Linked DNA regions of Homo sapiens. The protein of the gene in region 3 purifies or fractionates together with the protein of the main gene of each other region. This does not show direct contact. Each region holds a gene or a part of one and is shown on either strand. Other genes may lie near its edges.

Region 1 (3,107 bases), on a different chromosome or scaffold from region 3:
ATACAAGCACAGCAGCTGGTGGCCACCACTACGATTCCAATGGTAGGTGTCATCTCCTGAGAAAGGGAGCCTGGCTGGCCCATGGGCTAGGCAGAAACCCTAAATGGAGTCTACTGCACAAATCTTCCCGAAGCTGCCAGTCCACTTCAGTAGAAGTGGAGAGGATGTCCCAGTCTTCCACTCCTTGAGCAAGCCAGGCAGCACTGCTTATGTCCCCCAGTCTTACAGAAGCACTTCAGCTCCTTCCTGAGGAAAATTGCCTGGTGACAGACCTATCCTCTTCATATCCTCATCCCTCCCATGCACCAAACATTCAGACATTTCCTCCTTACAGCTTCCAACCTTCATGCAGATGAACACAGGCAGATAGAAGACTGTGGCGCTGTTAGCTCCACCACTTCCTCTCACACTCTACTCCACCACTCCACCCCCATGCATAGCCCCTATTTTCATATCTGGAAGAGGTTTCCACCCAAATCACTTAAAAGCAAGGACAGTCATGTTTTGACTGCTGATTTTATTGCAGGACTTTAGGTAGGGGCAACATGTCCTAAGCAAAAGAGACTGGAACTCTAGGGAATATAGACCAGGTCAGGTTTATGCCCAGTTGCAGCAATCACAGCTGGTGTCGAAGACAAGCCCGGCCTGGCAGTTCTGCTGGTACGTGACTCCATTCACGCAGTGCCAGAAGGCATTTCTGTTATTTGCCACGGGGTAGAGGCCGTTGGCTCTGACAGCACAGAATCCACTGCCTCCCGAGCTGCCTCCAGAGCTGCTACTCCCGCTCCCGTTCCCGCTGCCACTGGGAGCAGCAGTTATTGGCTCAATGGGCTGAGCTGGAGCCGTGCAACCTGAAACATACAGCAGTAAGAGCAGACTAGTGGGCTTGGGAGAGGCTCTAAGCTTCACCTAGAGGTGAAGAGAACTGTGGGAGTGGAAGTGTGGAGGTGGGGTGCAGTTGGCTCTGGATCCCTGCAACTGAGAAGAGAAAGTAGCTCCATATTCAGGAGATAAATAAAGCTATTGTGTCAAGCCAGCCTGGCTTTTAATTGTAAAAAAAGGTTGCTCTTTCCTTATAACATCTAAATCATTCAAAAAAAAATTTACTAACCACCAAATGTATGCAAAACACTTTTCTAGAATCTGGGCATAAATGGTGAACAAATAAATTCTAGGAAAAATCTGGAAAAAATTTAGAGAATTGATACATCCCCTGAATCACTGATTAGAGATATGTGAGCATTGGTGAGGGTTTCTTAAATCTCCCCAGGTGGGCTGAGAAAGATTTTGAATAAGGGATTCATAGAGAAGCAGATACTTATATTGATGTTAGTATAATTTCTTGAGGCTCTTCCACACCCTTAAGACTTAGCAGACTTAGAACACCCACCCAGTTAGGCCTGGCTTCCCATAAGTGCACAATGTTCCTGACATGGCCGTTCAAGGGTAAAACCTGTCTCTCATCTGGGCAAGAGCGGTGAGGTGAAGTGGAAAGAGGATCCCTGGGCAAGGGGGAGGTGGGAAGACATCAGGGTTGCTTTTTGAGTTGGAGAAGGGGTATTTATACACCTGGGCATTCCCCCTCAGTCACTTACTTGCACTCTGCAGGCCGAGGGCCTTCTTCAGGGTGGAGATTAGGGGAAACTTGCCCTGGTTGCAGAAAGTGCCAGTGAAGTCATCCAGATCAATGGCCCAGACCATGGCGCCTCCAAATTTGTTGTGCTTAAGCCATTGAGCCTGTTTAAAGAAAGAGGATAACAGGAATCACTTGCTTTCCTGGGACTCAGGGCTGGGACCTCAGCACATTTAAGGGACTGATCTTACCTTAATATCGAAGCTCTTGATGTTGTCATAGCCAACCCACACATTGCCCTGATAGGCATAAGGCACTTCCTGAGGGGCATCCCATCCCTGAGTGGCTCCATTTTTCAGGAAGGTACAGATCTTTCAAAAGTCAAGAGATTCAAATCTATTAAATGTTACTCCCATTAAAGAAAAACATGTTTCAAATTTTTCTTCTTTCATGTCTCCAGTTGGGGTTTTGCTCAATTTCTAGTTACAGGTTTTTATTTGTAGTAAAGAGGATCAAGTTGCTTGTCAAATGATTTTGGGAACCCACAGTAATATGAGAGGTATATTTATTTTATTACCTGTGTGCTAATATAAATTACATTTAAAAGGTAGTCTGTTGTGTGAAGGGATATTATGCATTGTTAAATGCTATTCATTTGGATTATGTAAATGAATGCTATTTAAACACTTTAAGCAGCTGTGTTTAAAGCATTTAGGTAGGAGACAGAATGAACATTCAAGATTTCAGCAGATTCTAGCCCTAAGGCACAGTGCACGGAATTCACAGAGCACTTTTCAGTCCAATCTACATACCTCGTAGTAAGCCCAGATCCCAGACTCCTTGGCATAGGGCCCAGCAGGACCAGCACCAGAGGTGGGGGCACCAATTCCAGTGTTGGAGGGGTTGCTCAGGATGAAGTTGTGTCCATAGGTAGGGAATCCAACGATGAGCTTCTCAGCTGGTGCTCCATTGTCCTTCCAGTAGTTCATGACATAATCCTGCAATGTCAGTGGGTTAGTTACATGGCCCAACCAGCTGAGGACCCAGTACTTAGTTATATTAGTCCCCTATTCCGACAGGTAAAACTCTATGCTGTTAATTCCAGATGGATTAGTATTTTTTTCAAAACATTTTGGTGAAGTTGTAGTTAATGAAATACGATCAACTTGAGGACAGTTGTTTAAGTGAGACACTTGCAGAATTTATGTTTACTTTGTGTCCCAGTCTCTGTGTGAAATTAAATGAGAATATTTAATTAATTATGGCAGCCTAATTTCCCATTTGAGAAAACCACTAAACTTATGATGCCTTTTGTGCCTGAATCTCTATGTGATTTTCATCATCATCTCTGGTCTGCTCTTGCATCTGTACAGGGACTCACCACATTGAGGTAGGCGTTGCTGCCGGTGTCAGTCGGGTATTTGTAGAGGGGGCTGTTCTCTCCAGTGTAGCCCTCCCAGGAGCCATGGAGGTCGTAGGTCATGACATGGATGTAGTCCAGGTACCTGAGGTGGGGTGGAGGATTTAAAATCAT
Region 2 (3,500 bases), on a different chromosome or scaffold from region 3:
GCTTGCAGTGAGCTGAGATCACACCACTGCACTCCAGCCTGGGCGACAGAGTGAGACTCCGTCCCAAAAAAAAAAAAAAAAAAAAAAAGAAGGAAGCTGAAACAAAGACATTTTCAGACAAGTAAGAATTGAGAGGATTTGTCACTAGCAAACCCTCAGTAATATGGTTTGGCTGTGTCCCCAACCAAATCTCACCTTGAATTGTAATAATCCCCACATGTCAAGGGCAGAGCCAGGTGGAGATAACTGAATCATGGGGGTGGTTTCCCCCATACCGTTCTCCTGGTAGTGAATAAGTCTCACAAGATCTGATGGTTTTATAAATGGGAGTTCCCGTGCACAAGCTCTCTCTTGCCTGCTGCCATGAAAGACATGTCTTGCTTCCCCTTCACCTTCCACCATGATTGTGAGGCCTCTCCAGCCTTGTGGAACTGTGAGTCAATTAAACCTCTTTCCTTTATAAATTACCCAGTCTTGGGTACGTCTTTATTAGCAGCATGAGAACAGACTAATACATTCAGTAAAAAAATAATGCTGGGCCGGGCATGATGGCTTATATCTGTAATCTCAGCACTTTGGGAGGCCAGGGTGGGAGAATTACTTGAGGCCGGGAGTTCAAGACCAGCCTGGGCAACATAGCGAGACTGTCTCTTTATGTGAAGTAAAAAAAAAAAAGTTTTTAATTTAAAAAAATAATAATGCTAATAGGCATCTAACTGGGCAGAAGAAAATGATCTCAGATGAAAATGTAGTAATGCAGAACAAAACAAAGAACAATGGAAAAGATAAACATGTAAGCAAAGAAGAATGAATACGGACTGTTACAACAATAAAAATAATATCTAATGGGTTTTAATAATCTGTAGACCTAAAATGAATGACAATAATAACATAAAAGGTGTGAGGGGATAGATAAAATTAAAATGTTCCAAAGTACCTTATTACCTAGGATTGTATTTCCCCAAAATAAATTTAAACATATCCACAAATGACTTGCACATAAATAAATGTTCAGAGCAGCACTATTAGAGATAGCCAGAAACTAGAAAAAAACTCAAATGTCCATCTACGGTGAATGGATAAGCAAATTATGGTATATTTATACAACGGAATACTACTTATCAATAAAAATGAATGAACCACTGATAGGCTAAAAACTACAGATGACTCTCACAGACATTATGTTGAGAAATAGAAGCCAGATTCAAAAGAGTACATACTATACAATTCCATTTATATGAAGTTCTAGCCAAGCAAAACCCCAATGCATGATGCTAATGTCAGGACAATGGTTCCCTTTGCAAGCAATAGAAACTAGAAAAGGAGAGGAGGGGACCTCTGGGAGGTTGCCAGTGTTCTATTTCTTAATATAGTTGTTTACATGGATGTGGAAATTCATCAAGCTTCATCCTTAGAATTGTGCACATACATATACTTTTCTATATGAATTTCAAAAAGTTTTAACAAATATTTCAGTCATACAAAAAGTTATACAAAGGATAATAAGTCTATATCCACCACCGAGATTAAGAAACAAAACATTACCAATATAGGTGATATATATACTACTGATTACACCACCACCCACCCCACCAGAGATAAATCACTGTCCTGAATTTGGCGTCAACCACTCCCTTGCACTATTTTATACTTTTACTCTTTCTACAAGCTTCCCTAAATGATATGTAAAACTATTTTTCATGTTTTAAAACTATGCATAAAAAGTAATTTGATTTCTTTTTTTTTTCTTTTTTTTTTTTTTTTAAGACAGTGCCTCACTCTATTGCCCAGGCTAGAGTGCAGTGGTGTAATCTTGGCTCGCTGCAGCCTCAACCTCCTGGGCCAAAGTGATCCTCCCACCTCAGCTTCCCAAGTAATTGAGAACACAGGCATTTGCCACCATGCCTGGCTTTTTTGTTTCTTTTCTTTTCTTTTTTTTTTTTCCGTAGAGATGGGAGTCTCCCTGTGTTGCCCAGGCTGGTCTTGAACTCCAGGGCTCCAGCAATCCTCCAGCCTCAGCCTCCCAAAGTGCTGGGATTACAGTTGTGAGTCACCACATCTGGCTGGTAATTTGATTTCTATTTTTAAAAGATCATTCTTAAATTAGCACAAGGGAACTTTCTTGGATGACAAGATATTCTATATCTTGATTAGAACATTAGTCACATAGGTATATATATTTGTCAACATACAAATTGAATATTTAAGATCTGTGCATGCCATTATATGTAAATTATCTCACTTTAAAAAGTTTCTAAATAGACCATTCTTGCTTCTTCTTAGGGAATAGCTCGGGGCTGGACAGAAGTGGAACCAGGAAAGCCAATTAGAATATTGCAGTAAACCTGATGAGCATCAAAGTCATCTATCTAAAGCGCAAGGAAGAAAAGACAACTTATGGATACAATTCTTTGAGCAGCTTAACTGTGAAGCAGAGCCGTGGCTGGAGGAAGAAGTGAGGCCAGAGGCCAAAGAAGGGTTTTAAAAGATAGAAAACCAAACTTGACACAGTAGAAAGGAAAAGCTGAAGAAAGACCATCAATAAGCTGGGCCTGGTGGCTCACGCCTGTAATCCCAGCATTTTGGGAGGCCGAGGTGGGCGGATCAGTTGATGTCATGAGTTTGCCAACATGGCAAAACCCCGTGTCTACTAAAATTCAAAAATTAGCCGGGTGTGGTGGCGTGCACCTGTAATCCTAGGTATTTGCAGGGGCTCAGGCACGAGAATCACCTGAACCCAGGAGGCGGAGGGTGCAGTGAGCAGAGATGGCACCACTGCACTCCAGCCTGGGTAACAGAGTGAGATTCTGTCCCCCTCCACCTCACTCCCCCCAAAAAAACAACAAAACAATAACAACAAAAAAGACCATCCATGAAGAAACAATAAAGGAACAAAGACCTTGAGAAGGTGGGGAGATGGAATATAAAGTCCAAGTAGTTTGGTATTTGCTGGCTCACAATGTCTTTTTGCTTTTTAACTGGAAAGAAGTAAAAAGAAGGGTACACATGCAGGACAGATCAGATTGTTTGGTGGGGGAAAGATAAAAGTTCTCATCTGATGGCTGCTACTTTTTCAATGAATACAAATCATTTTCTGAAAAAGACGGGATGGGAGCTCTGAAGCCTGTGAAAAACAGTATGGCATTACATTAGAAAAGCATCCCGGTGTGATGGGGAGTGGTTAAGAAAAATGAAAGGTTCCATTTTAGACAGGCTAAATGCCCAACAGATATCCAAACTCTCCAAATACACAAAAGCCTGTAATGAGCACAAAAGCAACAATATTGTAATTAATCTTTGATTATGCTGCACAAAGCACAGTGTAACCTATATTAGGTACTCAAGAGGGAATGAACAAGGGAATGAAGATTTTTTTTTTACATATTTTCACAGCACATTTAATATCATCTGTCATATTCTACAACGGAATTGCAGAAAACATGCTTTTCAGAAATAATATATTTTCCTTTTTTCTCATTTTTAGTTCTCAGTGTTCTTGG
Region 3 (5,619 bases):
GGACCTGGAGCCCAGGGGCCCCCGGGACCCTCCTTCAGCTCTCTGGATATCCCAGTGCAGTAATGGCTTCAGAACAATGAAGCCGCTTCAATTTTATTCCGTTTCCTGTAGCCATTACCAACAATTAACCAATTAAATGTGTCTAGAGTTGGCATATAGGTTAAGTTTTTGTCCAATTAAATTATCTAAGAAGTCTTGCTTAGCTCCAACTCTCTTATGACCACAACTTATCTTTTACAAAATACTTAATAAATTCAAAGCTACGTCTACACCAGATTCACCCCATGGCATGCACTGGAACAGAAGGAGTCATGCAGGGAAAAGCGCTCTGAAACCTCCAGGGCCCGCGCCGCTGCTCCTCACCAGAAGTGACCTCGTTGAAGGACAGTGCTTCCGAGGCCCGTCCTCCCAGGGCCATGCACATCCGCTCAAACAGCTGCTCCTTGGTGAAGAGGTGCTGGTCTCTGGGGAGCATCTGAGCAAAGCCCAGGGCGGCGTTTGTCCGAGGGGTTATGGAGACCTGGCACAAGGTCAAGATGACCCAGGTCAGTAGGCAGGATGCGTGGGCTTTGAGGAGGAAGGTGTGGGACTAAGAGGTCTCCGTCATTAAAGCGTCTCAAAGCAGGAAGGCAAATGTGCAGCATCCTCTACAACAACAGGGGATCCTAACACTCTAGATGGCCAGCCCAGAGACAGCAGCGTTCCCACCACAGGTGCCTGTTCACACACTGCCGGGAAGTGTCTTCTCATACATGACTAGACAGGCAGGGAGTCAAGAAGACAAGGCCCGTAGAAGACAGCTGAGAGGCGAAGGACAAGTTTCACCCCCGATGGCCGCTGCGCTGACCCCTCACACCAGCGACAGCTACTGAGGGTTCAGAGCAATGAGAACCCCACGATGCTGAGGCAGCAGAGGCTGTCCTCACCTCTGCTGCTCCCCCACAGCCCCACATCAGGTGTGCAAGGAGGTGGCGCGGGGCAACGAGCTAACTCGACAACACGGAACCGCTGAGTGGGAGACGGACGGAGACGGGGCAGGGGCTGGCCCAGCTGCTGCTTCTGAGAATTGTGGCGGCGAGATGGCCACATCCAAGTGCTCTGAGAATCCCGAGGACGCTTAATTTAAAATCTAAAACTAGGCTGGGCGGGGTCGCTCACATCTGTGATCTCGGTACTTTGGGAGTTAGAGGTGGGCAGATTGCATGAGCCCAGGAGTTCGAGACTAGCCTGGGCAACATAACGAGACCCCTTCGCTACAAAAAATATAAAAATCACTCGAGCCACCAGTGGGGCATGCCTGTAGTCCCAGCTATGCAGGAGGCTGAGGTAGGAGGATCGTGTGAGCCCGGAAGGTCGAGGCTGCAGTGAGCTGTGATCGCACCACTGGACTCCGGTCTGGGCAACAGAGAGAGAGACCCTGTCTCAAAACAAAAAGAAGCTCTAAATAACGGCTGCAGTGATGATTGCATTAATGACCAAAACCATAACAGCCAATTCACAACCTTTTCCTGGCAGGACACTGAGCCTTGGGAAAGAGACTCACTTTTTCATTGTGACTATCTGACTTTTGCCCATCAAATACAGTAAAAATTCTTTTTTTTTCCCTTTGAGAGACAGTCTTGCTCTGTCACCCAGGCTGGAGTACAGTGGCACAGTCTTGGCTCACTGCAGACTCTGCCTCCCGGGTTTAAGCGATTCTTGTGCCTCTACCTCTCAAGTGGCTAGGGTTACAGGTACGCACCACCACGCCCAGCTAATTCTTTTGTATTTTTGGTAGAGATGGGGTTTCACCAGGTTGGCCAGGCTGGTCTCGAACTCCTGACCTCAAGTGATCTGCCCGCCTTGGCCTCCCAAAGTCCCTGCATTAATTTTGATTTCTTGACATACCGTGTTAAAACGTCGTGTTCACTGCTGAGTTTTTTAGTGTCCCATAAATGGGACCCCCAGCTGAGTGTCCACTCGCCCCACAGTGGGCCTAGCTCTGGTCCCATGACTGTGGTGCACATCGCCAAGGAGCAGCACGGATCTGGTCCCCAAACGCTGCCTCAGCCCTGCTGAGACCCTGGGATGGGCAGGACGCTCTCTGATTAACACGCAACTTTGCTACAACTCACACCTGAGAACCAATCACGGAGACCAGCACTGACAAACCAAGCTGGCAACTGCTACAGCGTATGCATTGTTTGCAGTGAACCCTGAGGTAGGAACACAGCACTGCCGCCTTCTCAGGTGAGCCTCAAACCTGCACGGCTTCCTGGGGCTCCACTGTAAAGACGGCACCTGCGTTCCGAGTAGAGACCTCCTCTTGGCAGCACTCGGACTCCCGGTGGTGGAGCCACGTCTTAGAGAAGCTGTAACATCACCATTTGGTAAGAATAAATGTCCATCGAGTTCACAGCTGCCTACAAGAGTAGTTTTTTGTTTGTTTGTTTGAAGTAGAGACAGTTTTGCCCTGTTGGCCAGGCTGGTCTTGAACTCCTGACCTCAGGTGATCCACCATGCCCAGCCTAGAATAGTATTTTTTAAATGTACACTCAACTCACTTCTTTCCAATGTTAGGAGTCATTTGGGGTGGACAGGCAAAGGCAGCGAAACCCCATTGCATGGTGTAACCTTCCACGAGTCACCCCAGTAGCAGCACCATGCTCCGATGTGACACAGCCCACTCCTGCCTCCCACGTCCGAGTTCCCGCCCATCAGTCGCCACCCACCCTGCTCCATGGATCATGACAGTGGCAGGCTTTCCTCTCACATGACCTACAGACACAGGCGGGACTCCCCAGTCAGCTACAGACACAGGCGGGACTCCCCAGTCAGCTACAGACACAGGCGGGACTCCCCACCCACCTTTGGCCAAGGCCCGTGGAGCCGGCACCTGCCAAGACCCACCTTCATCACGGCCTCCGTGTGCTCCAGCATCCAGCCCACCAAGGCGTGGCCCGACTCATGAAACGCAACCACTTTCTGTTCTTCCTTGGACAGGATCTTGCTCTTTTTGGCAGTCCCTGAAAGAATGCCGGGGTATGAGTTGGGCGCGGTGGCTCACGCCTGTAATCCCAGCGCTGTGGGAGGCCAAGGCGGGCGGATGACCTGAGGACAGGAGTTCGAGACCAGCCCGACCAATATGGTGAAACCCCGTCCCTACTAAAAATAGAAAAATTAGCTAGGTGTGATGGCGGGCGCCTGCAGTCCCAGCTACTTGGGAGGCTGAGGCAAGAGAATCACTTGAACCTGAGAGACGGAGGTTACAGTAGGGCAAGATCATGCCACTGCACTCCAGGCTGGGCGACAGAGCAAGACTCCGTCTCAAAAAACAAACAAAAAAGAATGACGGGGGGGTGAGCTGAGACCCCGGCCTCTCCCTGGCTGGGCCCTGCTCCTGCCCCGTGTGGTCAAAGCAAGCCTCTCTCTGCACATCTGCCTCTTGGAGCTGCAGCTGCGGCTCTGGACACCCCAACTCAAAACGACACTCTTCAGGTCAAAGGGCTGTTGAAGGAGGTCGTGATTTCTTCTTTTATAAATGTTGCAATCATCGAAATAGCTCCTGCTGCTTTTAGGAACAAGTGCAACCCTCTGAGGAGTGTCTCCTCCTGCCCCATGGTTGGGGGGGTGCCACAGGGTCGGGGCAAGGGTCACAGAACAGCAGCTTTTGACTTTCTCCCTGGCAGGATGGGCAGAGGCCTCCTCTGAGTTACGGGCCTCCTGCTTACTTTCCCTCTCCCCTCAGACCTGGAGGCGCAGCTCCCATCCCCATCACTTTCTGGATCCTTATGGCTTCTACTCACCCCTTCAGAAGCTTTTTGCCTCAGGGACAAGGCTTTTTTTCTGTCAGTGACAGGGTCTCACTCTGTTGCCCAGGCTGGAGGGCAGTGGTGCGATCACGGCTCACTGTTGCTTCAACCTCCCAGGTTCAAGCAATCCTCCTGCTGCAGCCTCCTGAGTAGCTGAGACCAGAGGTGTGCTCCACCACCATGCCTGGCTAATACTCTTTATTCTTTTCTTTTAAGAGATGGGGTCTTGCTGTATTGCCCAGGCTGGTCTCAAACTCCTGGCCTCAAGCAACCCTCCTGCCTCAGCCCCCAAAGTGCTGGGATTACAGGCATGAGCCACAGTGCCCAGCCAGGGACAAATGTTTGCATTAAATCTCCCCTGTTCAGCTTACTGGTGAGGCTTCATTTCCTGTCTCAGATTTTCCACACATCTGTAAGTGTCCATTCTGTACAACTTGAATCAGCTCGTGGTCCTGAGCACTCAAGTACGTCATGTATTTTCTTTCAACTGGCTTGTGGTTCCCACTCAGTCCTTCCTGCTTTGCTACTATTATCAAAAGCTTTTCGATTTCCACATAAAAGTAAATGGTTACACGAAAATAAATTTCAGTAAGACACAGGCAGCGCCAGTCCTCTCGACCCGCAGGGCTGTCGGAGAGAAGCCAGGTGTGTTTTGCAGTGTCTGGCACAGCAGCTGCCCCACTCCTCTGCAGGAACCCACTGCTTTCCCAAGCTGAAGCCCTGGGGACCTGCAAGAGGCGTGTTCGTGCTAGGAATTCACTCGAATTGAGGGTGAGGAACTCGGTTCTCGCAGGGATAGCTCGCAAAGGAGGCTCGTGCTCCTCAAACACCTGGGGCAAGAACCACTTCCCTTTTCAAACGTTCAACCTGTCTCACACTGACAGTGCGGGTCTGAACTCCATTCCATGAGATGACTGATCACGTCTGGGTGTTGCCATCATAGCTATGGAAACCTCCAGCAGCTCCGATTCCCAGTTTGGTCCTCTCTCCTCACAGACGTCGCAGACCCCACACTGAGCAGCCACGGAACGGCAGTCAGAGGCGGTCAGCCCACCGGTCACCCGTCACCAAAACTCATCTCCCGTTCCTACTGACGGTCGGGACCATGAGTTTCACCAGAGGTGGTGCTGCAGATCCACACCTCTCCGCAGAGCCCCTGCTGCGCTGAAAGCACGGCTGTCCCTCCACAGCCACGGGCGGCAGCAGCCCTCCGGCCCACAGTCAGCGGCTGGAGCTCAGCCCCCATGAGGCTGGGGCTAGGCTGAGCCCACCACACCCAGGCTGGCAAGACATTTTTAGTTTTTATTATTTTTATTTTTGGGGGGCATTTTTTATTTTTATTTTTTCACTTTCTTTGGCAAGGCATTTTTTATTTCTGTTGGACGAGCGTCTACTCTTAGGTAAATCTGTGATATTTTAAACTAAGGAAAAGTACAAGGTATCATAAAGACATGAGTTACGCAGAACTGAAACGCAACGTGTGTTCCTTCCTGTGTGATGGTTCCATCCACCTCACCTCTCAATACCTGCCTGGGTATTTCTGGGGTTCAAGCCCTGCTAAGGAGGGCCTTCACCCAGGGCGCGCCCCCTGTACCTGCGAGGACGCGCTCCACGGCGTACTCGAAGTTGAGAGTGTGCACGGAAGTGTGTCCCTCCCGCGCCGCGTGCAGCGCAGCCTCATTGCAGATGTTGGCGATGTCAGCCCCTGTCAACACAAACAGCCACGGTGTGGGTGGGTGGGTTTCTGCTATCAGGGCTTAAGAGGAGGAAGGGGCCCTCAAGGGAGAACAAAGATGGCCGGGCATGGTGGCTCACCCCTGTAATCCCA

What was found.
Region 1: the proteins of SPG7 (region 3) and CHIA purify together in Homo sapiens (co-immunoprecipitation; one large-scale study listed by IntAct). This does not show direct contact.
Region 2: the proteins of SPG7 (region 3) and HTR7 purify together in Homo sapiens (tandem affinity purification; one large-scale study listed by IntAct). This does not show direct contact.

The regions. Positions count from the first base shown.
Region 1 is NC_000001.11:111,317,957-111,321,063, reverse strand, and holds the end of CHIA (acidic mammalian chitinase isoform c precursor), read right to left. Parts: intron 3,079-3,107; coding exon 2,955-3,078; intron 2,572-2,954; coding exon 2,386-2,571; intron 1,945-2,385; coding exon 1,825-1,944; intron 1,738-1,824; coding exon 1,596-1,737; intron 852-1,595; coding exon 598-851; 3' UTR 501-597; downstream 1-500.
Region 2 is NC_000010.11:90,851,540-90,855,039, forward strand, and holds part of HTR7 (5-hydroxytryptamine receptor 7), read right to left. Parts: intron 1-3,500. UniProt on the Homo sapiens protein: G-protein coupled receptor for 5-hydroxytryptamine (serotonin), a biogenic hormone that functions as a neurotransmitter, a hormone and a mitogen.
Region 3 is NC_000016.10:89,547,880-89,553,498, reverse strand, and holds part of SPG7 (mitochondrial inner membrane m-AAA protease component paraplegin isoform 1 precursor), read right to left. Parts: intron 5,497-5,619; coding exon 5,386-5,496; intron 4,805-5,385; coding exon of another isoform or gene 4,782-4,804; exon of another isoform or gene 4,717-4,781; intron 3,006-4,716; coding exon 2,890-3,005; intron 521-2,889; coding exon 364-520; intron 1-363. UniProt on the Homo sapiens protein: Catalytic component of the m-AAA protease, a protease that plays a key role in proteostasis of inner mitochondrial membrane proteins, and which is essential for axonal and neuron development.